Homo sapiens: one gene and its partners. The protein of the gene in region 5 purifies or fractionates together with the protein of the main gene of each other region. This does not show direct contact. Each region holds a gene or a part of one and is shown on either strand. Other genes may lie near its edges.

Region 1 (3,500 bases), on a different chromosome or scaffold from region 5:
AAAAAAAATTAGCCAGATGTGGTGGTGCACACCTGTGGTCCCAGCTACTTGGGAGGCTGAGGCGGCAGGATCACTTGAGCCCTGGAGGTCTAGCCTGCAGTGAGCAGTGATCGCACCACTGCACTCAAGCCTGGGTGACAGAGCAAGACTTCGTCTCTTAAAAAAAAAGAAAAGTAGGGGAAAACAATCACCTGTGGAGGAGAATAAGGAAACTCTAAGTATTATCTGTTCAATTTTTCTGTCAAACTACAACCGGTCTAAAAAATAAAGTTTATTAAGTAAAATAGTGAATAAAATACCATTTCATGGAAGATTCACAGCTATGTGAAATAGACAGATGGCATACAATATAACATATAGGATGATATCACTTCCACAAAAAACAGACAAAAATAAGGCCGGGCGTAGTGGCTCACACCTATAATCCCAACACTTTGGGAGGCATAGCTGGGTGGACTGCTTGAGCCCAGGAGTTCAAGACCAGCTTAGACAGCATGGCAAAACCCCGCCTCCACAAAAAAAAAAAATACAAAAATTAGCTGGTGTGGTACTGTGCACCTGTAGTCCTAGCTTGTTGGGAGACTGAGGTGGGAGAATCACTTGAGCCCGGAGGCAGAGGTTGCGGTGAGCCAAGAGCGCCACTGCACTCCAGCCTGGGCTACACAGTGAGACTCCATCTCAAAAAAAAAAAAAAAAAAGGCTAAGAATAGCCAAGATGTCGTACAAAATACAGTTAGGATTGTTAACAGACTGAATGTTTGTATTCCACCACCATCCCCTGCCCAAACTTTCATTTGCTGAAATCCTAACCCCCAAACTAAATGCAGAAACCAGCATGCGTGAAACAAACAGGCAAAGAAACCAAAAAAAAACTCTTTTTGGCATAATATTAATGGTAATAACTTACTAAAAATTCAAAAGAGGAAGAGCCAAGCAAAATTCAGCCTAATGATAAATAGATGGTAAAACTATGAAGAACCACCTTTTAAAAATGAGGACCTGGTCACCTGTGGGTACAGACGGGAGACAAGATCAGGACATACCAGAAATGCCCAATGCCCATTTATGAACCTGGGTAGTGAGTCCACAGGTGTTTCACACAACCCACTCTCCTCTCCTCACAGTGTGGAAATGCTCCCTCCTCCAGGGTCTCAATTCTCACCAGCGAACACTTACCCAGAGCCAGGTGAAGGTTCTGATCTCTAGTGTCTTTTTTCATATACCATTTCTGACACCAAATGTGTGGTGTTTGCTGAACACAACCAAATCTCCAATTCTCCAACACCAATTAAGCATTCAAATCAATTCTGACACTACCCAGAGTTAACGGGGACCCCACAAGTTCAGGGCTCATTACCATAACAGTGCCCCACTGCAGATGCCAGTCACAAGCCCCAGGGATCACCCATACTTCTCAGCAACTGCATATAAATCAGAAATGGCGAAATGGAAGGGATGGATGTAAGGGAAAATGGCGGCAGAAGATTGGGCAGGTATGTAATCCTGGAAATAGCTATGGTTAAAGAAACTCCCCCGTCTTTTGTATTCTGCAGGAGCAGGTTACGCAAAGAAACACTCTTCTCATTATGACTTAGATGACACTGCTTTTTTACCTATGACAAAGCCATACACAGACTAGAAATTCCCTTTATTTTCCTCACAATTGATTAGCTGAACAGCTCTGTCTTCAGTGATCAGTCAGAACAAAGTACCTGTTAACAAAACTTTGGTTAAGTTTCTCTTCTTCCTCCAGCCCCTGAACTTTGACCCACCCCCAGCCTGAGCCTATATACAACCCCTCTGATGACCCTCCTAAGAAGAGACTGCCTTCAGGATCTAGGTGGGATTTTGCACCCTGCATCCTGCCTTCCACCTCCCACCTTCTTTCTCATCATTTGCTCCTCCCTACAAAAGAAAATCCTTTTCTGCATAAACTCTGAGATGCTTGCAGATTTTTTTTTTTTTTTTTTTTTTTTTGAGACAGAGTCTCACTCTGTCGCCCAGGCTGGAGTGCAGTGGCGCGATCTCGGCTCACTGCAACCTCTGCCTCCTGAGTTCAAGCGATTCTCCTGCCTCAGCCTCCCGAGTAGTTGGGATTACAGGCACGCACCACCATGCCCGGCTAATTTTTGTATTTTTAGTAGAGATGGGGTTTCACTATGTTGGTCAGGCTGGTCTCAAACTCCTAACATTGTGATCCACCCACCTCGGCCTCCCAAAGTGCATGGATTACAGACGTGAGCCACCACGCCCAGCCTGAGATGCTTGAAGATTTTATACTTGGTGCCTTCTCCCCTTTCGATTATCCTTTAGAATAGTCATTCCTGTCTGGTGTGGTGGTGCTCCCCGCCCCACCCCCATAATCCTGGAATTTGGGGAGGCTACGGTGGGAGGATTGCTCGAGGCCAGGAGTTAGAGACCAGTCTGGGCAACATAACAACGTCCTGTCTCTCTTAAAAAAACTTTTTTAAAAATATAAGCCAGGCATCATGGCACATGCCTTTAGTCCTAGGTACTTGGGAGGCTGATGTGAGAGAATTCCTTGAGCCCAGGAGATCAAGGCTACAGTGAGCTATGATCGCACCACTGCACTCCAGCCTAGGAGACAGAGTGAGACCCTGTCACACACAAAAAAAATAAATAAATAAAAATAAAATAAATCACTCCTTACCTAAATCCAGATTTGTTTCATTAGAAACGTCTACAAACAGACCCAAGATAATAGCAAGTACATTCTCAGAAAGGCATCACCTCAACCACCTCTGCCTATGAATCCCCAGCTTTCCAGGGCTCTGAGCTTCTCTCACTATAAAGGGCTCCACCCAAAGTCAGTTGTGAGCAGCTGGGACACTGCAGGGGAGGCTCCTCAGCAAGAACCACTGGGCCTGTAATGTCCTCTCTTTGAAGGCTCAAGATTGGTCTTAGTTTCAAGTCACTAGTCTGCTGTCTCTGTTTCCCAGTCAAGGTTATGCATTTAATTTTCAATGAGAAAATACCCAGGGTTTGAAGATTCCAGTAAAATCACTCAAATTCACTGTTTATAGCAAGGAAGGAAATTGTAAGGCACTTATATTTCATACCTTAACAGGAAAAGTAAAAGTATCCATCCTCTTCAGACAATAAACATGTTATTTATTCTTTCTATGGTAACAAATCATGTACTAAATCATATTGGAACACTTCTAGGAGTTACCAAGTCCTGTCCTACTAGGACTTCGCATTAAACTCTGATGTCTAGATAACAGGAAGAGAACAGTTATCCACTGTCACAAGTTTGCCACCCTGCAAAGCAGAGGAATTGATGTTTTGGTGAATCTCTGTAATTCACCAATTTATTTGCTACACTTACTTGTGGAAATGTATTCATTTTCTGCAGTCATGATAGAAGAGAGTTTTCTCTCTCTCTTTTCCTTAGTATTCCCAACACTAAGCCCTGGAATTCCATTTTAAATCACCACACCCCACCCCCACAAAAAAAAACAACATACTTGAGAAACTTA
Region 2 (4,283 bases), on a different chromosome or scaffold from region 5:
CCCATTAGTTCCTTAGTAGCTAGCCATCTCAGTTACCAGGTTGACTACTGTAGTATAGCAGTTGCCTGTGCTCAAGAATGCCTTATTTTACTTAATAATGACCCAAAAGCACAAGAGTAGAGACGCTGGAAATTCAGATATGCAAAGAGAAGCCATAAAATAAAAAGGTAAAAATTCTTGTCTTAAGGAAAGAAAAAATAATCATATGCTGAGGTTGCTAAGATTTACAATATAAATTATTTTGAGAGAGATACCACATTCATACAACTTTTATTACAATATATTGCTGTAATTGTTCTATCTTATTACTAGTTATTGTTGTCAATCTCTTACCATGCCTAATTTGTAAATTAAACTTTATCATTATTATGTATGTATAGAAAAAGAAAACCATAGTGTATACAGGGTTTGGTACTATTCATGGTTTCAAAGTATCCACTGGGGTGGGGCGCGGTGGATCACTTCAGGGCAGGAATTTGAGACCAGCCTGGCCAACATGGTGAAACCCCGTCTCTACTGAAAATACAAAAATTAGCTGGGCGTGGTGGCACGCTGTAGTCCCAGCTGCTCAGGATGCTGAGGCAGAATTACTTGAACCCGTGAGGTGAAGGTTGCAGTGAGCCAAGACTGTGCCACTGTACTCCAGCCTGGGTGACAGAGCGAGATTCTGCCTCAAACAACAACAAAAACAAAGTATCCACTAGAGCTCTTGGAACATATCACCTGTGGATAAGGGGAACCACTGTATATACAGATCTTTGTGAAGAATACTGCTAACAACCCAAGAGCAATCACTTATTCAGGGCTCACAATGAGCCCAGCACTGGAGTTCCCTGCTCATCCTTGGAAATTTCCTGCTCAGATGCAAACATAGCTGAACTCTCACCTTTTCCTGCTGACAGCCACTCACCCACATCTCCCTTACTAGAGATAGAAAGAAAAGAATAAAGACCAAAAAACCCTGTTGACTATTTTTTCCTTTCACTTTTTGAGAAGTGTTAATAGAACTGAAAATACCAGCAAGGAAAAACGCCCTCGAGGAATAGAGTTAATTGGATCTCCAAAATGTTGTCATGAAAGGTGCATTCCTGGGATATGAATTTGATTTCCTTCCTTTCTTCCTCTCTCTTTCTTTCCTCTCTCTCCCTTTCCTTTCCTGTCTTTCAAAACCATTCGCACTCCTTTTATGAGGCATGCAGATCTTGGATTATTCTTCCACTTTCCAGCCAACTGCACTTCAAAACAGCCTTAATAAGGCTGGGCACGGTGGCTCAGCCTGTAATCCCAACACTTGGGGAGGCCGAGGCGGGCGGATCACCTGAGGTCAGGAGTTTGAGACCAGCCTGACCAACATGGACCTCGTCTCTACTAAAAATACAAAATTATCCCGGCGTGGTGGCGCATGCCTGTAATCGTAGCTACTAGGGAGGCTGAGGCAGGAGAATCGCTTGAACCCGGGAGGCAGAGGTTGCGGTGAGCGGAGATCGCGCCATTGCACTCCAGCCAGGGAAATGAGAGTGAAACTCCGTCTCAAAAACAAACAAACAAACAAACAAACAAAAAAAAACGCCTTAGTAACAGTGCCCTCAAGAACCTGGCCTTCCAGTTCTCTGGCAGAGAAGACCTACTGCTGCCGCTAGTCCTCAAGATGGCATTTGCTGGAGGCGGTAGGCAGAGGCCCTAAGTGTGGATTCTAACCCCCGTGGGGACTGAATCTCTGCGGCTGTTGCTTGCCCAGGCACGTTTGCCTCCCATGAACTTCCTTCATCCACAGGGCCCCAAACCTCATGCCGGCGGGAGGAGGAAGGAGACTGGGCATAACTCATCAGACTTTCGACTGTAAGAGCTGGAGGCCGCCTGCGGGCTTATCTGTACCCGGGCCTGTCCCCACCCTTCCAGAATGTAAATCCTCTGAGGGAATGTGTCGTCGCCATCTTTCAGTCCTTTGAGTGCACCCAGTCTCTCTCCAACCCAAAACCCTTTATCCACAGCAATTCTGAGAATGATGAGAATCCCCCTCACCCCTCACACCGCAAACAGTTGCAATGCTTAGTGGGATTCACCCTTGTCGTCACCAACCCTGCTACTCCAGCCACGTGAGTTTTCCGCCTGTCAGCCAAGCAAAATGGCCTTCCTGCAGTCGCACGGCCCTTTGGTCTCTGCTCAGGGCTTCGGGGACCCTTTCCAGCCATTGCCCTGCACCTACCCACCAGATCGCCGCCCTGGTGGGCGCTCCTGGCCCTGTCCTCCGCGCTTAGTTTGTCATTGGGCGCCCAGATCCGGAACCCCAGCCTCGAAGCTTCCGGTGGCCGGGAACAAAGCCGGTTTTGCTCACTGTCGCCTGGCAAAGCAGGCGCTTGTTAGCACCCACTGAATGCGCTTATGTGCTCAGAAACGGTCCCATTGGTTGGGACTACCTTCCCCGATGCCCATCCGCCCAGAATCTTCCTTCTGGGATGCCGACTTTTTCAACACGTGCCAGGAGCCCTTCCTCGGCCCGGAATCCCCAGAGTGCCCACAGTGGACAGGGCACCTGGATACACCCCAGACTAACCCACGTTTCCCCGGAGGACCCCAGAGGTTGGAAGCCCCTCCAAGATTAGGGGCGCAGTGCTCCCCTGGCCTGCGGAAGAGTCAGAGGAGTGGGGACAACATCCAACATCAGCCTCTACTACCGCTAGCGCGACTCCCCGCCGCCGCTCTACTCACCTGACGCGCGCAGTGGACCGCGATTTAGGGGCACAGGGTCTCCCGGGGACCAGCGGCTGGAGCGCTCCGGCCGAGCACCCGCAGTCCCGGCGCCGCGGCCCCACCCCGGCCCCGCCCTCTTCCGCTCCCTCCCAGTCATCAGGCCACCGAGAATGTGCCCCTTGACCCAGATGAGAGGGTGAGCCCGCCAAGGTCAAGCTTCCCATCCTAAGAATCACAGACAGCCCGGCCATGCACCACCACTTCGAGCCTCCGACCAACTGATAGCTGCTGGTCCCAAGTAGCGCTAGGATTTTCGCTTTCCCAGTCTTAATTGACTCTAAAAGAAGAAGAAAAAAAAGCCTGGGCGCGATTGCTCACACCTGTAATTCCGGCACTTTGGGAGGTCGAGGCTGGTGAATTACCTGAAGTCAGGAGTTCAAGACCACCCTGGCCAACATGGCGAAACCTCGTCTCTACTAAAAGTACAAAAATTAGCCAGGCGTGGTGGCGGGCGCCTGTAACCCCAGCTACTCAGGAGGCTGAGGCAGGAGAATCGCTTGAATCCGGGAGGTGGAGGTTGCAGTGAGCCCAGATCACGCCACTGCACTCCAGCCTGGGCAAAAAGAGTGAAACTCCATCTCAAAAAAAAAAAAAAAAAAAAAAAAGAGGAAAGTATTTACGAAAAAAAAAAAAAAAGACCAAAGTATTATGATTAAAACACGCGGCTGAGAGCGGTGGCTCACACCTGTAATCCCAGCACTTTGGGAGGCTGAGGGGGCGGATCACCTGAGGTCAGAAGTTCGACCTCAGCGTGGCCAATATGGCGAAACCTTGTCCCTATTAAAAATACAAAAGTTAGCCGGTGGTGGTGACGCACACCTGTAATCCCAGCTACTTGGGAGACATTGCCGTTACTGGGCAAGTGTTCTTTCAAGAGCATCTTATCTGAATTACTATAGTACTAAAGAATGTCTAGGCTGGGCCCCCGTGGCTCACTCCTGGAATGCTAACACTTTGGGAAGCTGAGGAGGGAGGATTGCTGGAGGCCAGGAGTTCAAGACCAACCTGGGCAACATAGCAAGACCCTTTCTCTAGAAAAAATGAAAACAACTTGGCCAGGTGTTGTGGTACATGCCTTTAGTCCTAGGTGCTTAGGAGGTTGAGGTGGGAGGATTGCTTGAGCTCAGGAGTTTGAGGTTACAGTGAGCTATGATTGCACCACTGCATTCCAGCCTTGGCAATGGAGTGAGGCCCTATTTCTAAACAGAACAAAAAAAAAGAATGCCTGCTGATAAACCTTGTGACAGGACATTCATGAAGGATGAAGAAAAGATTTCTTTTATTTTTTTATTTTTATTTTTTTGAGACAGAGTCTCGCTCTGTTGCCCCGGCTGGAGTGCAGTGGCGCCATCTCAGCTCACTGCAACCTCCAACTCCTGAGTAGCTGGGATTACAGGTGCGTGCCACCATACCCGGTTAATTTTTTTTTTTTTTTTTTTTTTTTTAGTACACACAGGGTTTCACCATGTTGGTCAGGCTGGTCTCAAACTCCTGACCTCATGATCTGCCTGCCTCAGCCTCCCAAAGTGCTG
Region 3 (3,500 bases), on a different chromosome or scaffold from region 5:
TTGTTTTTTTTTTTTTTTTCCTGGGGCCATGTAGAGCAAGTAAGCTTTGGTGGGCAAAGCACACTTCAGGGGATCACTATAAATGGCAAATAATTTTTTAATGATATTTACTTGCCAGAAACAAAAAATTTAAACAGGGTTTTAGTACTGAGTTATTAAATATGGCAAGAAAATAAAGCATATAGCGGAATTAGAATTAGTCATATAATAGAACTTAAATCTGTTTTGCAGTTCTTTTAAAAATCAGTGTGATGTTTTATAATGACATTATCTGACCCTGATTTTTGGAAAATACAATAAGAATCAATTTCATACCTTGCTGTTGAATAATCTTAGAAGCTAATTGAGAAAAGGAATTTGAATTAACAGAGATATTAGGTGACAAGACTGAGGCTCCAGGGTCAAGAATGAAAGTAATCAAAATCAAGGAAAGGTGGAAGTAGGCTGTTAGCTTCTCTCTTGAGTTCTGTTGCTGCATTTTAAATGCCTTGTCCTTCTATAGTTTGATCTTTTATTTTGAGTCCTGGCTCTTTTTGCATATGTTCTTGGTTTGGGGGCAGCTCCAAAGAGAATTCTAATTTTCTTCTGAGGGGCTTTTGGAAACGATGCCTTTCCTTAGTTCTTCCTTCTTGCTACAGGTGTGTACATGCAGCCACTCACAGAAATCAGAAGAGGCCCTGAGAAAGAATTTGTTCTAACCGATCACTCAGCATTTGTTGCTAGTTGTGCCTGACTTTGCCTCCAAAGGCCCCGACCACCATTCCTGATAGGTCAGATTCCTTTCTCAAGCCACACCTCTCGAGCAGATTGCTACACCCGAATCCCCAAACTGGAGTTCTACAGCATCTTACAAGAGCCCTTTGGATTTCTGGGACAATTGCTGATACCATAACTGGGCCTCCTTCCTGAAGGTTTGTCAGTCAAGGGAGGGACAAGTGCTAACATAGCTGTGGTCACCTCTTAAGGATTAACAGCCTGGAGTGCCTGGCTGGCAGCTGTCCTGGCTCATAGCTGGGTATTTTTGCTGAAGAGGTCGGCCTGTTATCCTATAGGAAAGGCCATCGGTGAGGACTCTTGTGTTCTGGCCTGGATTCAAGGGGAGACACATTCCAAAAGCCCTAGGACACGAGGACCATCCTGCCCTCCAGAATGCCGGAATTATATCCGAGTTCCCCTTGGAACTTTCAAGGGTATCCTTTTAAATGTAAACTCCTCTGGGACAGTGGTCTACTGAAGCAGCTTCCCTTAGGTCTGGGGAATGGGACAGAGAATGGACATGGGAATGGAATAAAGAGGAAATGGCAGGTAGGAGAATTTCACAGAGACGAATTTCTTCAGTTTTTCCTTCAGTCAGGTCTGACCTTATCTTTTACTAGCACTCCAGAAACTGGGCCACCTGGAGTCAAGGAGAGGCAGAGAAGATAGATTTTGGTAGGTTCTGTTCCTCTCCACTTTCCTCTTTCAGTGGATGGCTACCTCCTTTAGCATCATCATCATTCATTGCTTTTTTTTTTTTTCGAGACGGAGTCTCACTCTGTCTCCCAGGCTGGAGTGCAGTGGCACAATCTCTGCTCGCTGCAGCCTCGGCCTCCCGGGTTCCAGCGATTCCCCTGCCTCAGCCTCCTGGGTAGCTGGGATTACAGGCACATGCCACCACGCCCAGGTAATTTTTGTAGTTTTAGTAGAGATGGGGTTTCACCGTATTGGCCAGGCTGGTCTTGAACTCTTGACCTCAGGTGATCTGCCTGCCTCGGCCTCCCAAAGTGCTGGGATTCTATACAGGCATGAGCCACCACGCACAACCCACTCTCCTAATTTTGGGGCTGTAGTTCAGCAAGCGGAACTCTGACGCCAAATCTTACAGACGTAGGCAAACAGATATTGCATGTGGACTGAAGATACTTTTCAGAGGTCTGACTGTTGTTTCCTACTTTTTAAAAAGGTGTTTTAAAAGCAAAAGTACTGCTGTTTGCTTTGCACTCTAGTTTTAAAAACTTCTCTACAAAGTAGGAGTTCTATAAGCTTCTCTGTTAAATCTGACCAGTGGGCCTATGTCATTGGCACAAAGCATGACTTTGGCAAATAACAATTTCCCATCTCCAAAGTCCCAAGTCTGTTCACAAGGACTCCCTGGTGACAGAACTCATGGGGTGGGGCCAGGGCAGAGCTACCTAAATACAGATTTTGATTTTGGTCAGTAGGGACCCTGTGGTGTTATTGGGAGTCATGACTCATCATTTGAGGGCCAGGTCGCAGCCTGAGACCTTGGGGTAAAAAGACTATATATCACAGTGAGGATATCAGGAACCTCCACATCCTGACATCCTCACATTCCAAGGATTACCCTGGATGATACAACATCCCAGGGGATTCCTTCTTTTACAGTCACAGTGCAGGACTGAGGAGTTGCCAACGGGAACTGTTAAACACATACTGATTCTATCAGATTTTGAAGATAAAAATGCTTCTAAAGCATTCTCTTGTCCTTTAAAAGCATATTCAAGATGTTTGTTTCTATTTTTGTTACCCTGCATGTCTGTATTGTTACATGCATAAGAACAAATGCATATCAGTATGTAAAAACACATACACACACACATAAAGAGAAAGAGAGAGAGAGAGATTGAAGGGAGCGCCAAGTTCTAATTATTCGTGAGTGAATACTCTGAGGCAGCTCGAGGTTTTTGTCAGGCCAGCAGGGCTCTTCACTAATGTTGAGGCAAAATTTGGGCCGGGAGTGTGATTTTAAAAAGAAAACTGCTTTTATTAATTTTATTTGCAGTACACTTTGGGGTTGTCATCTAATAAAATAAAATACTAAAGAATTTAGGCTAATAATTTTTCTTATTCTCAAAAGAATTTTTATATCTGAATGTGTTGTTAACTCTCAGACTTTGGAGCAAATGAAGGGAAAAAGAAGCACACATGATAAATAACACTAATGGCGGAAAAAAAAATTCAACTGGCTAATCCTCCCATCACTGAGGGTGACTATCAAGCACCCTCAGAGATTAATTCTGTCACCCAGAACTTTCTGGGGCCTGACCAAAGCCTTCAGGGTTGTTTATAATCCGGTAAGACAGAATCTACTAACAAATAGTTGAGAGTTAACCTTTCTTTACCCAGTAGATATACTTCTGGAAAGTTGCTCATAAAGTGAATAATATTTTAAATGTATTTAGTGGTTTTGCTATTGGAGACAGTCTGGGTGATTTTTTTGTTGTTGTTTGGTTTTCAATGAATAATCGTAGGCAAATTGATCTACTTTGTATAATACTTCTGGATTTTGTAAGTCAGATTTTTCTTCAGTCCCAGATTTTCGCGCCTGTCCCAGTATACATAGCCACAACACAGCAGCTGAGAGATGCCGCTGGGTGCTACTCACATTTTAAACCTCTCCACACTAGCAGGATTTCCTCATCCTGAGTTCCTCAAAGTAAGGAATGGCTAAGAAGGAGGAAATGGGATGGCTTGCTGATTGATGGATGATCTTTCAGTTT
Region 4 (4,156 bases), on a different chromosome or scaffold from region 5:
AAGGGTGTTGTCAAGTCCTTTTCCCTGAGGACTGATTAGTGTTTATCTTGAAAACATGTACTTAATGGGTTGTATAGAACTGTGAAGTGTCTTTCTCTTTTTTCAACCTCTTAGCTCTTTGCCTCTATTTCCCATCACATTCTGGTCTAAGGCTTACTTATTAATAAAATGGTGTTTATTTCTTTCTCTATTATCGTCATGGAGATGTTTTGTCATTTGGGGGAAGATTTTTTTGTTTCGTTTTCAATTGTATTTTCTTAACAATTAGAAAGTGAAGTAAAAAGTATTTGGCCAGGCGCGGTGGCTCCCGCCTGTGATCCCAGCACTTTGAGGAGGCCCAGGCAGGTGGATCCCTTAAAGTCAAGAGTTTGAGACCACACTGGCCAACATGGTGAAACTCGTCTACAAAAATACAAAAATTAGCCGGGCATGGTGGCACGCGCCTGTAATTGCAGATACTCTGGAGGCTGAGGCAGGGGAATCGCTGAAACCCAGGAGGCAGAGGCTGCAGTGAGCCGAGATCCCATCACGGCACTCTAGCCTGGGCGACAGAGAAATACTCTGTCTCAAAACAAAAGAAATAAGTAAATAAATAAAGGAATAAATCTCTTCCAAAAATGTGCTGAGGCAACTAACTGGATATCCACATGGAAAAGAATACTGTTAGATCCCTATCTCACACAATCAAACTCTTATTTTAAAACGTTTAAAAAAAAAGGAAAAAAAAGAGAGAGTGACGAGGAAGGGAGCCCTGCGGGAGGGGGTGTTACATTGTCGCCCAGGCTGGCCTGGACCCCCAGGCTCAGCAATCCTCCCGCCGCTGCTTCCTGAGTAGCTGGGACCTCAGTCTCCCGCGCCCGCGCCCACATCCCTGCTGTGTTTATCCAGAAGGTGGTGACCTCACTCCTCGCTGGCCTGAGCATTCCGTCCCACATCCCAGGCGGTGGCCCTAGGGAAGTCTCTGCAGCTGAGCACAGGGTGGACTCTCCCTCCCAAGTGAATGGAGACTGGAAAGGGAGAGGATTTCTATTCTGTTTTGTGGGCTGTCAGCATGAAATCGTACGTTCCATCCAGGCAGGGCTTTGCATTTTACATTCCAGTTTGCATCCCCGTTCCAGACAATTCCAGGGCTTTTGAATCATGCCTCAGCCTTCCTGGCCGGTCTCGCCTCCAAAACCCGAAAACTGAGGCCCTGGGAGCCAGGCTGAGAGACTCACAGGTCCCGCCACAGCCCCGCCCTCTGTCGGTTCTAAAGGGTAAAGTCTCTCTGCCCCGCCCCTACCTCGCCCAAGCCCGCCCACCTCCTCGCGGGTCCCGCCCAGGCCTGGCTTCTTTCCTGCGCGCGCAGCTTCGCGCAGACCCGGAAGCGGACGGCGTGGAGTGACTATCCCACCGCCGCGGGTGAGTTTCGCTCTGTTTTGTATTAAGTCTGTGCTTCCCAGGTCCCTGGCGCTTCTGTACCTGGGGCGTGGGGTCTCCACTAACCTGGAAATTCTCAGCCGTCTTCCTTCACCCAGAGCAAGTTGAGACGACCCCGTGAGAGTCCGGGGGTCGCTTCCTTTTGGGTTTAAGGTCCCCCTGAGGCTGGTCCCGTCCCGGGTGTTTCTGCTATAGGGCAATGTATACACTTTCTATCACGTAGTTTTCCTGCTCTGAAACTTTTTCTGACTCCTCCCGTCCCGCGCTTTTTAAAGTCCTCACCCGAGAGGTGAATTCCCTCCCTGAGCGCCTCCCAGTCTCGCCCTCGTTGGCAGCTGGACGCAGCGCGGCGGCCCCAGCCCCAAGGAGGCCGCGTCCTCTGTCTGGTCCTGGGATCCTGCAGACCCCACCCTTGTCTTAAGGCGCCGTGGCGCCGCCGCCTCCCTCCTTTTGCGGGCCCTACTGCTCCCCAGGTTCGCCTCCACAGTCACTGCTTTCCCTGAGCCCGAGTTAGGGAGGTGCCCGGGGCCTGTCCTGTGACACGGGGTGTTCTTGCCTGCCCAGCTCCAGCCCCTGGAAAATGCGCTCCCCCGGGATGCAGGCGTTTTGCTCCAAACCCTCCTGTGTCTTATCCAAAGCCTCCGGTGCTTGTGTAGGCTAAAGGGATCAGGAGACAGACGTAGAGCAGTAGAAAACCTGAGACAGAAAAGAAGAATAAAAAAGACTCATAACAGATGGCAAAGTAGAGGATGGGTGAGGGATTTGCCAGACACAGCAAATGTGGGGGAAAAAAAAAAAAAGGAGGAGAAAAGCAACTGGAGAAATGTAGAGAAAAGGTAGATGTACAGAGAGATGAAGGACAGAGAGCAAGGTAGGGAGAGGGACAGCAAAGAGGGAGGCTCATCAGAGTGAGGGAGAGGAGGAGGGATTTGGAGCCAGGGCAGACAGAGCAGAGTGGTGCTGGTGGCAAGGAGAACAGAGGGAGAAGCACAGCAGGGAGGACACCTGGGGATCTGGGGTGCTAGAGAGTGGGGATGAGGGTATAACAGGGAAGAGAGAATGTAACAGGGAGAGCAGAGGAGGCGCAGAGATGGTGTTGCGGGAAACTAAGTACTAGAGAGACCGGTATGCGGGAGACAGAACGATGTTTATTTAAGGTACGCACCGGCTCAGTGGATTTACATCTAAAAAGCTGAGCATTTCAACAAAGACAGAGTGGGGTTTTTATAAGCAGGCTTACAGAAGCAAAATAAAAGCAGTTAATCATGTAATGATTGGTCACATAATCTATAGCATAGCATAACTTGTGGCCTTGCATAGCTGGTGGTCTTGTAGCTGCATTGAAAGAAAAACAAGAACAGCTAAATACAGACTTTTTTTTTCTTCACTCTTGTTCTAAAGTGGGGTTTTCTGGAGCTCATTCCTTTGGCTTCAGCTGCACAAAAAGCGTTATCTTATAACTGTCCTTGAAGTGAGCTTGCTAGGCAGAGGAAAACTTGTTCTTCTTTTCTTTTTAACCCTTGCCTTGCCTGTTAGTTTTTTGGAGTGAATGAATGCATATTGATTTTTTAAATTTCTGCCTCAGTTTTCTCCCTTTGCTGCTTTTTATAAATAAGGTTTTAATAGAAAGCACCACTATTACTGGATTCTTCATGAAAGAGCAGGTTTTCTTCTTTAGGCACAGGCTGATATTTATATGGAGCTATTAGCTGAGTGGTAGTCTGCCTAGTCACAATTGCTTCTATAGTTGATTGAACGTTCTTAACAAGGAGAGGTGAGGTAAGGGAGTATTAAACCAATTCTTAGTATTTCTAGAACCACTCCTGTTAAGGTTTTGAATCGACTGAAGGAGGAAAACCAGCCTCTAAAGAGGGACTCGGGAGTCTACTTTGTCTAAGTCTGGACTGGAACATGGGATAATTTTTTTATTCTTGCAGTTACTTCTATAACAGCCTTCCTATTGTCATTGATTTCTAGGCAGCAATTAGTTAGATTAAACTTTCTACATACTCCTCCTTCCTAGGCTAGGAGGTAGTCGAAAGCTAATCTATTTTGGTAGATGGCATTTCTCATTTTTGTGGCTTGCTGGGCCAGTAAGTCTAATGCATTTGCTGTTTCATTAGTGATGATTCCAAGTACTGCTTGCAACTTTATGATGCGGTTAAGCGTGTAAACTTAAGTGTGCCCGGCTCAATTTTTGAATTTTTAGTAGAGACAGGGTTTCACCATGTTGGCCAGGCTGGTCTCGAACTCCTGAGCTCAAGCGATCCTCACACCTCAGCCTCCTAAGTAACTGGGACCACAGACACACAGACGTGCACAACCATGCCTGGCTAAGTTTTTGTACTTTTGGTAGAGATGGGGTTTCACCACGTTGCCCAGGCTGGTCTCAAACCTGAGCTCAAGAGATCTACGCACCTCGGCCTCCCAGAGTGCTGGGATGACAGGCATGAGCCACCGCACCCAGCCTTTGCATGAGGTTTGGTCAGGCCTGGGTCTGTGCCCTAAAGGGGAGCTCATCCCACCCCAGCTCCCCACTGCTGCAGCGTGTGTGTGGGCTTCTCCGGGAGGGGAGTGGGAGTTTTCCTGTAGGAGTTTATTGTCCCTGGTGTGGTCGGCAGCATAGGGGACCGTATGTCCTCAGGATGAGGTCTCCTTTGTATGTGTTGTTGTGTTACAGGGAGGGGATATGTTGATTCTGAGCAATAAACAACATATTTCTAACATTCAGGATTGA
Region 5 (3,500 bases):
CCTACAGAAAAGAGACTGCTTCATCTGTTTCCTGGAAATGCAGCATAAGGAAATAATATTAAATAAACTCTAACTAAAAAAAAGTCTATTAATATCTAATCAACTGCTAATTATCTACAATGGCAGAAGATATGGGAATATTTTTAAAGTTTCCACATAAACAATGTTGATTTTTATAATAGGCTCATCTTCTGATTGTTAAATTCTGGATAATCATAAAATTCACCATATTATCTAAACACTCATCAGCTGGTAATTAAAAAAGAGTAACATGAAGGAAAAAAATACTAAAAACGTGTCAGCCTTGAAAATAGTTTATAAAATACAGTCATGTGCCACAAAATGAAATTGTGGTAAATGATGGATCACAAACACAATGGTGGTCCCATAAGATTATAATGGAGCTGATAAATTCCTATTAGCCTAGTGACTTCATAGCCATGGTAACATTCACAATGCATTACCCACATGTCTCTGATGACGCTGGTATAAACAAACTTGTTGTACTGCCAGTCTTGTAAGTATACCACAATTATGTACAGTACCTAATACTTGATAATGTTAATAAATGACTATGTTACTGGTTTATGTATTTACTATATTATCATTATTTTACTACTTATTTCAAAAAAAGTTAAATGTAAAACAGCCTTAGACAGGCCCTACAGGAGGGATTCCAGAAGAAGGCATCATTGTCAGAGGAGATGACAGCTCTAAGCTAGTTACTGCCTCTGAAGACCTCCCAAGTGGGACAAGATGTGGAGGTGGGAGACAGAGATACTGATGATCCCAACCCTGCTAGGCCTAGCCTAATTGTGTGTGTTTATGTCTTAGTTTTTAACGAAAACATTTAAAAAGAAAAAAAATTTAAATATGAAAAGCTTATAAAGATATAAATACTTTTGTTCAGCTATAAAATGTGTGTTTTAAGTGTTATGATAGTGTGTTTTAAGTGCTACGATAGAAGAATCAAGAAGTTAAAAAAACTTATAAAGTAAAAAAAGTTCAGTACATTAATAATGAAGAAAAAGTATTTTAAAATAAATTTAGTGTAGCTTAAGTGTACAGTGTTTATAAAGTCTATAGTAGGGTACAATAATGTCCCAGGCCTTCACATTCCCTCACCACTCATTCACTGGCTTACCTAGGGCAATTTCCAGTCTTGCAAGCACCATTCATGGTAAGTGCCCTACACAAGTGTACCATTTTCTGTCTTTTATTCCATATTTTTACTGTACCTTTTCTATGTTTAAATACGTTTAGATACACAAATACTTACCTTTCTGTTATAATTGCCTACAGTATTCAGTGTAGTAACATGCTATACAGATTTAGAGCCTAGGAACAGTTGGCTATACCATATATCCTAGGGGTGTAGCAGGCGCTACTATCTAGTTGTGTGTGAGTAGTCACTCTGATGTTTGCACAATGATGAAATAGGCTAAAAATTTATTTCTCAGAATGTAACCCTGTTGTTATGCAACACATGACTATAATTACTCACACAGCTATATTACTGTTAACAGGTCTTCTTTCATTAGATACCAGAAAAATGTTGTTATAGACTACAACTGGAAATCCTTCTACTTTATTCCTTTCCTTTTTCAAGAAGAGTTAAGAAAGCTCCAAATCTTTTTTTTCTTTTTTTGAGACTCGCTCTGTCACCCAGGCTGGAGTACAATGGCACAATCATGGCTCACTGCAGCTTCCACCTTTTGGGCTCAAGGATCTTCCCACCTCAGCCCCCCGAGGAGCTGGGACTACAGGTGCATGCCGTCACACCCTAATTTATTTGCTAACTTATTTATTTATATAGAGATGGGGTTTTACTATGTTGCCCAGGCTGCTCTAAATCTTTTTTGAAATAAAGCTTTAAGTAGTAAACTTTGGGAAAACAATTGTATTCAAAATTAATCCAAAATTTAAAAACAATCCCTTTAAGAAATCCGGCAAAGGCGTAGTTAATTTCCCTGTTTACTAATGAAGACTCACATTTGAAAGCTTTCCAAAGAAGACAATCTGAAATAACCTCATCTTAGATTGAGTAGCTTAAGATATTACAGTGAAGTCTTCAGTAAAGTACCATTAAAAAAAATGTGCCTAATAAAAAACAACACTTCCAAGTCTTAGATGTAATACATAGAAGAATTTAAGAAATTAGCCTGAACTTTATTTCTCTAGGTTAAGGGGAATTAAGGGTAATTTGTAGTAGTTCCTGTAACCATTCAATAACTTCTGTAGCTCTGAAAATTAATTATAAAGACTATGTTTTATAATTTTGGCCAAGTCATATAGATCAGAAAGCCAGATAGATATATTTGGGCTAAACAGAATGCAAAATATTAACAGACTCATCCAAAGGTGCAGAAAACTTCCTGGAGGCCTCTAGAACTGAACTATCAAGCCTGAGTTAGGATAAATTGCCATAAACAAGACTATTCAAGCTTTGGGTAGAAGGCTATACATAAAGGTTCCCTTCAACCCTAAAATGATAAAACATACACAAATACAAACCAAAGCCAGACCAAAAACTGTTTAAAAGTAGTTCATGAACCTTCAAAATGTTCCAAAGTGGCTACATGCACAAATGCTTCCCCAATGTAAATGATTTATCTTTAAACATCAAAAGGATGGTCCTCATCTCACTGGAAATAAACAAGACAAAACTAAAAACATCTTTTTACCTTATTAAAGTAGTCCAGCAGGAGCGGCCATCTAAGCAACGTAAGTAACAACTTATGGTTGTTTTCTTGAACTGTTTAATATCTTCTAATTCTTCTTCTCTCATATCTGGCCTCTGAGCTATAAACAGCTGCATCAGGTTAAACAGTTCTTCTACTGCCTAAAAAAGCCAAATAAGCCATATGATCTTTTAACCCTATAGCATTTTAGAAGGTCAGTTTCTCATTTCTACGTTCATTAATCAACTCTTAAAATTATACAAATAAGCTAGATTATACTTCCATTCAGAAAGTTATAAAATCAGTAACAAATTCTATTTAAAAAATTTTGGCTGGGCGCAGTGGCTGATGCCTAGCACTTTGGGAGGCAGAGGCGGGCAGATTGCCTGAACTCAGGAGTTCGAGACCAGCCAGGGCAACATGATGAAACTCTGTCTCTACTAAAATACAAATAATAACAATAATAATAAACACTAAAAGAACTCAACAAATCTTAAAATACAAGTTTAGAAAGAGTAAAAACTGTAAGTGAATACAATTCATTTTTAGTCTTATTACTGCTTAAAGCACTACTTTTGTAACTTCAAATGTAAACCCAGAGGCATGCCACACCATCTCCTATCCACTTTTTCTTTAATTAATGAGAAATCATTACTTTGTCACAAAGATTTTAAATGCCTAAATAACCCTTAAATTAATAGTGTATATGAGGTAAACCTTTGTTCCAACATTTAAAATGCTTTTCTAGAATGATGCTCAGTTCAATTTCCTGATGAATAAAAAGTAAAAACAAATATTTTAGTAAAATCACTAGCTGTG
Region 6 (3,500 bases), on a different chromosome or scaffold from region 5:
CTCTTGAGTCATGTCTGAGAAGTGGAACTGGGCACAAAGGAAACTAGATGGATAAAAGTGAGTAAGTCAGTGCAGATCTGTTACCCTATTGGGAAAAAAAACCAAAAACCATCTCAAGCTTCATCTTCTACTCCTCATATGACTGCATCTCTATACCAACTACATCTTTCTTTATTCAAGAAAATTGCTGTCTGCCAAGATTCATCCAAGCATGAAGAAATTCATCAAGGTGAAAATGGGCTTAAATTCTCAACAAGTATCTTCTGTGTGTGTCAGCTTCTGGATGCAAACTTTTAGGATCTGTTTTTCAACACACCACCAGAGGAGTACTTAAAAATCAGTAAGTCAGAAAGATAAATCCAAAAACACAAACTCCTCTTTTAAAAAAAGGAGAAAAAAATATTAGAAGGGGTGTTTTTTAATATTCAGAATTTTTTTGCTCCCTTCAGAAAAGTCTTAGTTAAGGTTAAATTATTTTTCTAAATCAACATTGCATGGATTATGTTACCATTGATTAACTATTTTTGCTAGCTTTCTTCTTGCTGTACTTCAATTATAGCATTGGATGTATGTTGAACATGTCAATTACAGAATACAAACCAAAGGCTTTTTTTGTTTTTATTTCTTTTCAACATCTCACTGGCCTGGCAAGAGTCAATGAGTCACACCATCGATCTCCACATTTGCCCTTTGCTCTACAAGTGTTGTACTCACCATGAGGAAATACCCAATAAGCAGAACAGGCATTAAGAGGATAATTAGTAGATAATCAATGAAGGTAAATTTTTTCTTCACAGCATAATGCAAGCAGGTTCTCTCTTTCTAAAAATTAAGAAAAGGATTCTTTACTAATAAAGCATTTCAATTCAAAATTTATTCAGATGGCCATCTCAAAAAGTTTAGTTTGTGCTTTTTGTTTTTCCGGTACCCATGGCATCTTTTCCTGTGGGATACATCTGATTACTGAATGCGGCTTTCCATGGAGCAGAACAGAGAACTCGGTCCAGTGTAAAGGAAAAGCTAGGGAAGGGCTCCTGGGAGTCAACAAAGGTGAAATGTACACAGCAGAGCTCATCAGAAGACAGATTCTTATACCCACTTAGTTTTTGGAAAAAAAGATACACTGAGATATAAACTTAGGACTGAATTTACTATGAAAATTGATAGTTATCCCTTAATCATCTACCATGTGTACGATTATCCATTTTGTGGTTTGTTCATAGGAAAACTCTTAACCACATGGCTGTTTTTCATGTTCCTTCATGTGCATAGTCTAGAAGAATGCATATAACTCAATTTTATTCTTCAAATATGTGAATACTTATCAGGTAATAGATGTCAGCTTCCAAGGGTTGTGGGAGATGTGAACTCTTAGGGCCTCATAATCAAAGATGGACAGAAATATGCACAAATAAATATAAGGCAAAACAGAAGGTGGTAATTGGAATACCAATCAAATCAGTAAGAGGAGAGGGAGCCCAAGAGAAAGAAAGGAGGTTAGTTTCCACTTATGCAAGGCACTGTACCTAAATAAGAACACTTTTTGTTTTTCTAATATGAAGGCATTTATATTTTCTGTAAAAAAATTTTAGAAACTAGAGAGGAACATAACGATAGAATTTTAAATTGCCCATTATTATATTAAATGGTCCAGAGTTAACTGTTGACATTTTGTTGTATTTTCTTCCAGTCTTCTTAAATGCATAAATGTGGAATTTTGAAATGTAGAATGATATTGCATATGCAATATCATATCTTGCTTTTTTCAGTTCAGAAACGTATATTTAGAATATGTACATTTTTCCATGCAATTCAATATTTTTAAACATATGATTGTAATGGCTGCATGGCTTAGTATTGAGTGGAACTACTCTGATGTATTTAGCTAAGCCCTGCCTTTTGAACATTTCATGGTTTTTGAGGGTTTTGTTTTTGTTTTTGTTTTTCTGTGAGACAGGATCTTGCTTTGCCACCTAGGCGGGAGTGCAGTGGCACAATCCTAGCTCACTGCAGCCTTGACTTCCTGGTCTCAAGCGATCCTTCAACTTCAGCCTCCAAAGTAGCTGGGACTACAAACATGTGCCACCACACCTGGATAATTTTTTACTTATTATTATTTTGTGTAGAGATGCGGGGGTCTTGCTATGTTGCCTAGGCAGGTCTTGAACTCCTGGTCTCAAACTATCCTTCCACCTTGGCCTCCCAAAATGCTGGGATTCCAGACATGAGCCACTGCACATGGCCCGTTTCAAGTTTTAAACTTTTCATTTTTATAAATAATATTGCCTGAACCTGCTCATTCATAAATTTTTGTCAACATTTCCAAATTTGTCCTTTGCCTACATTTCTAAAAATAGAATTCCTGGCATAAAAAGTATTAATGCTTTTCATATTGCGCTATCAAATTGTGTTCTAATAAGACAATAATAACTTAAACTTTCTGATCAACATTTGTTTTCTTTTTTAATCTTGGTCAGTTTGACAGACAAAAACAAGGATCTTTATGTTTTAATTTAATTTGCTATCAATAGAATCCATAGGCTTGTGCTTCTGAATCTCCAGCAGAGCTTTTTGTTTGTTTGTTTGTTTTTAAGGTGTTTGTTTGTTTAGTGTTTCTGGAAATAATTTATAAACAGATTTCAGACATGAGAAATCACAGGTTCAAATTATTAATGTACAAATATTAATATTTGGAGAAAATAAAAATATTAAATGCTAACATTAGAAACATTTGAAAGTGGAAAATGCAAACCAAAAACTTCTACTGATAAAATCTATTAATCTAATGTATCCACTAAAGTCTTTTTCATGGTTTTTATGATACCAGAAAATCCCAGCAGGCTGGCTGAGGCCCTCCTCTTCTGCAAAGCGGAGATAAAAGTGTCTCCTCAGCCTTGCCCATGGGCTAACGTCTCCTCCCTCAGTTTCCTAACGAGCGCACCTCTTAAAAGAGCGCAGGAACCCACAGACATCTGTCTTCTGGCACTACCACTCACTGCAACTCCACATATCTGGTTTCACAGCAGTGATCTACAGAGATCCTATTATAGTCCACGATGTTGCATATCTGTTCCATTCAGCACAGGCATGACTTGCTTTTAATCGCAACCAAACCAAAAATAGTAAGCATAAATAAAAAAGTCCAGTAATGATCAATTTTCTGATAATACATTGTTACTCCTGATGAGCTAGTCTCCAAATGACTTAGAAGGGGCAAGGGGGGATTTCCAGTGTTTTCTCGCCTTGAATGCATATAAGTGGGTACAGGACAGTCATAATGATTGCAAAAAAATGGCTTAATATTTATTCAGTGTAATTTAAATATTGCCTTCACTACGATGCAAATGCTAGATGTTCAGAAAGGGCTCCACAAGGATTTTCACAGCAATACACACATATTCTTCTCTTTCTTGGTCCTGAAGGCTCCAAAGTAGCTAATATTGCATCTTTAAATATATTCTTTACACCTTTTTGTGTGACTTCAAGTAACCTCTGGCTCA
Region 7 (2,748 bases), on a different chromosome or scaffold from region 5:
GGCAGGAACGGATTCTGGCCCTGGCCAAGCGACTAGCCATGCTGCGGGGACAGGACCCCGAGAGAGGTGAAGGCTGGGGAGCAGCTGCTCACTGGTATCCCTTGGTCAAGGCCTCCCTGGCAGGGCTGAGTCAGGTGCTGGGGGTATTTGCGCCCAGAGATCTACTGAGCCCAGCCCAGAGCCACAAGGAAGGTGGTAGAGCAAAGCAGTGGGTGAGGAGTCAGGGGCAGCCATGAGGGCAGGGGACCTTCAGTCCATTCAGGGGCTGAGGCTTTCGCTCCAGCCCCCAACCTAGCCCTCAGGCCTGCTTCAGTGATGGCCCAGCCCTGCAGGGCTGGGGCAGGCAGGGACAGGTCATCAGGGTGGCTGAAGAGGCTTCTCAGCTCTGGAATAAGTGCCCCTGGGAACCGAACCAGTTCTGGGAGGCAGGAGGGCAGCCACTCATGTGAAATCTCTCACTCTCACTCCCCCATCCCCTGTTCCCATGTCTCCCTCTTCAAGTGACCCTCCAGGACTATCGCCTCCCAGACAGTGATGACGACGAGGATGAGGAGACAGCCATCCAAAGAGTCCTGCAGCAGGTGGGCCTGGATTACCCACCTGCCACCCCTTGTCCCGTCTCCGCCTCATTGCCCCACCTCTACTCTGGGGCTGGGTGGACAGTAACTGTGAAGCTCCTGTTCTCTTTGGGCCCCCTCCTGTGACCCAGACCCAGACCTGCCCACTGGTCCCTGGAGATAGGGAATCAGCAGCCACAGGCCACAAGTAAAGAAAAAGATGAGTTTGAGAAGCTAAGTCCACAGTGCACAGAAATACTGGGAGATGGAGGGCCTGGGCCTGAAGCAGGGGAGTAGTACATCTTCACCCTGTCCGCAGCTCACTGAAGAAGCTTCCCTGGATGAGGCAAGTGGCTTTAACATCCCTGCAGAGCAGGCTTCTCGACCCTGGACGCAACCCCGCGGGGCAGAGCCTGAGGTGAGAAAAGCCCCAGATGCAGACCCCCAGGCTCCCCCCAGCCTTGCTTCCTGCCTGGCTGACTGCTCCTGCAGCAGCTCACATACCCCACTGGGTACCTTACTTCCTCCATTCCTCTCTGATCCCTGAAGGCCCAGGATGTGGACCCCAGGCCTGAGGCTGAGGAAGAGGAGCTCCCCTGGTGCTGCATCTGCAATGAGGATGCCACCCTACGCTGCGCTGGCTGCGATGGGGACCTCTTCTGTGCCCGCTGCTTCCGGTGGGTGCAGGTGGAATGTTCTGTGCGAGAGCTCAAGGGCTGCCTGGATCCCTGACTTGTATCCCTTTGTTCCACAGAGAGGGCCATGATGCCTTTGAGCTTAAAGAGCACCAGACATCTGCCTACTCTCCTCCACGTGCAGGCCAAGAGCACTGAAGACACCCTGGTCCTCCCGGAAGGGCAGTCCCACAGGCAGCGGCACCCATTTCTGGGCCCAGCCACAGGACGTCCGATGGGAGAGCTTGTCTGGCTCTACTGATGATGGATAGGCCCCTTCCTGAGCCTTGGTGTCCCTGGAATGAGGAAAGATTCTCCATTCGAGAGAATGACTGGGAGGGAAGAAGTCGGGGCCCTCCTATTAGAAGCCCAGACTGGAAGTGAGAGGCATGATGGGGAGAGACCAGACTGAATCTACGGGTGAGCCCTGTAACCTGGCTCTAGGGCACAGGCCCCTCCCCTGGCACTTAGTGGGTCTAATAAAGTATGTTGATTCATTGGGCCCAGCATCTCATTTCTACAACCCTATGAGCCTGGGCCCTGTGAGAGGTGGCAGGAACAGAGCAGGCTGTAAGCACAGTTGTGGGGAATGGGGGAAAAGGTTGAGCCATCCTATGAACTTCTCCAGGCAGGAACAGCCCTACCCATCCTGGTGGCCTCATACGAAGTAAACATGTATTCATTCAACTCAACTGTGCTCCAGCTCTGGGCAGCCCCACTTAGCCACCAGTCCCCACCATCTTGGATTTCTCAGCCTCTCTACTACTCACACAATGCACGCAGGAACAATGCACACACACCCTGCTTCCTGCCTTACTGGCAAAGGACCCCAGCTCCTAGGGCTCCTGTCCCAACCTGCCTGCCATTCAGTCTCAGTATCTCTCTTCCAGTAATGCGCCCTAACCGGACCCCTGACCTCTCGGCATGTACCCTTTACATGCCTCTGCATTGCCTCTGCTGTTTCTCTTCCTGCCCCTGGCTGGAACCAACTATAAAGAGCCCTCGGGCTGAGGTCTACCTCCTGCATCACTTTTGGTTGGAAGAGCCTTTTCTGAGGCTCTCAGATCCAGCTAGGTTTTTCCTGTTACTTCCTCTCTGGGATTTGAAACTAGTCTTTGCCATTGGCGTCCCTCTTGTTGGTTATGCCAGTAGGCTGTGTACCTTAGGCAGATAATGTCTGCTTGGCCCCGAGGCCTTGCTAGATTGTGATCTCTCTGAAGTGGAGCTGTGACTTTCGTCTTTGAATTCTTGAGTCCTTTGGATGGATGGATGGATGAGGTGTGTGGGCACAGCCAAGTGACTTAGGTTGTGGCCTTCCTGTGTATCACTTCATTCTCTCCTCCCCTGTCCCTCAGCACAGATATGTTCCACACTCCATTGAGCTGGGGCTCCTAAAGGTTTTATCCACTTGGCTGCCAAGGAAGGCATTGGACAACAGCCAGCTTTCTCCCAGAGAGCCCAGCTGACAGAAACTAGCTGTGACCACACAGACAGTAGGAGTATGCAAATGTCCCTCC

What was found.
Region 1: the proteins of USP34 (region 5) and ZNF627 purify together in Homo sapiens (co-immunoprecipitation; one large-scale study listed by IntAct). This does not show direct contact.
Region 2: the proteins of USP34 (region 5) and ZFP57 purify together in Homo sapiens (co-immunoprecipitation; one large-scale study listed by IntAct). This does not show direct contact.
Region 3: the proteins of USP34 (region 5) and PTCHD1 purify together in Homo sapiens (co-immunoprecipitation; one study listed by IntAct). This does not show direct contact.
Region 4: the proteins of USP34 (region 5) and ZNF765 purify together in Homo sapiens (co-immunoprecipitation; one large-scale study listed by IntAct). This does not show direct contact.
Region 6: the proteins of USP34 (region 5) and ANKRD22 purify together in Homo sapiens (co-immunoprecipitation; one large-scale study listed by IntAct). This does not show direct contact.
Region 7: the proteins of USP34 (region 5) and ZFYVE19 fractionate together in Homo sapiens (co-fractionation; one large-scale study listed by BioGRID). This does not show direct contact.

What each region holds. Positions count from the first base shown.
Region 1 is NC_000019.10:11,600,483-11,603,982, reverse strand, and holds part of ZNF627 (zinc finger protein 627), read right to left. Parts: intron 1-3,500. UniProt on the Homo sapiens protein: May be involved in transcriptional regulation.
Region 2 is NC_000006.12:29,678,353-29,682,635, forward strand, and holds the start of ZFP57 (zinc finger protein 57 homolog), read right to left. Parts: upstream 2,801-4,283; 5' UTR 2,710-2,800; intron 1-2,709. UniProt on the Homo sapiens protein: Transcription regulator required to maintain maternal and paternal gene imprinting, a process by which gene expression is restricted in a parent of origin-specific manner by epigenetic modification of genomic DNA and chromatin, including DNA methylation.
Region 3 is NC_000023.11:23,386,849-23,390,348, reverse strand, and holds part of PTCHD1 (patched domain-containing protein 1), read right to left. Parts: intron 1-3,500. UniProt on the Homo sapiens protein: Required for the development and function of the thalamic reticular nucleus (TRN), a part of the thalamus that is critical for thalamocortical transmission, generation of sleep rhythms, sensorimotor processing and attention. Can bind cholesterol in vitro.
Region 4 is NC_000019.10:53,393,793-53,397,948, forward strand, and holds the start of ZNF765 (zinc finger protein 765), read left to right. Parts: upstream 1-1,356; 5' UTR 1,357-1,401; intron 1,402-4,150; 5' UTR 4,151-4,156. UniProt on the Homo sapiens protein: May be involved in transcriptional regulation.
Region 5 is NC_000002.12:61,209,088-61,212,587, forward strand, and holds part of USP34 (ubiquitin carboxyl-terminal hydrolase 34), read right to left. Parts: intron 2,843-3,500; coding exon 2,685-2,842; intron 1-2,684. UniProt on the Homo sapiens protein: Ubiquitin hydrolase that can remove conjugated ubiquitin from AXIN1 and AXIN2, thereby acting as a regulator of Wnt signaling pathway.
Region 6 is NC_000010.11:88,827,845-88,831,344, forward strand, and holds part of ANKRD22 (ankyrin repeat domain-containing protein 22), read right to left. Parts: intron 823-3,500; coding exon 715-822; intron 1-714.
Region 7 is NC_000015.10:40,812,837-40,815,584, forward strand, and holds the end of ZFYVE19 (abscission/NoCut checkpoint regulator), read left to right. Parts: coding exon 1-66; intron 67-501; coding exon 502-581; intron 582-876; coding exon 877-975; intron 976-1,106; coding exon 1,107-1,234; intron 1,235-1,311; coding exon 1,312-1,390; 3' UTR 1,391-2,248; downstream 2,249-2,748. UniProt on the Homo sapiens protein: Key regulator of abscission step in cytokinesis: part of the cytokinesis checkpoint, a process required to delay abscission to prevent both premature resolution of intercellular chromosome bridges and accumulation of DNA damage.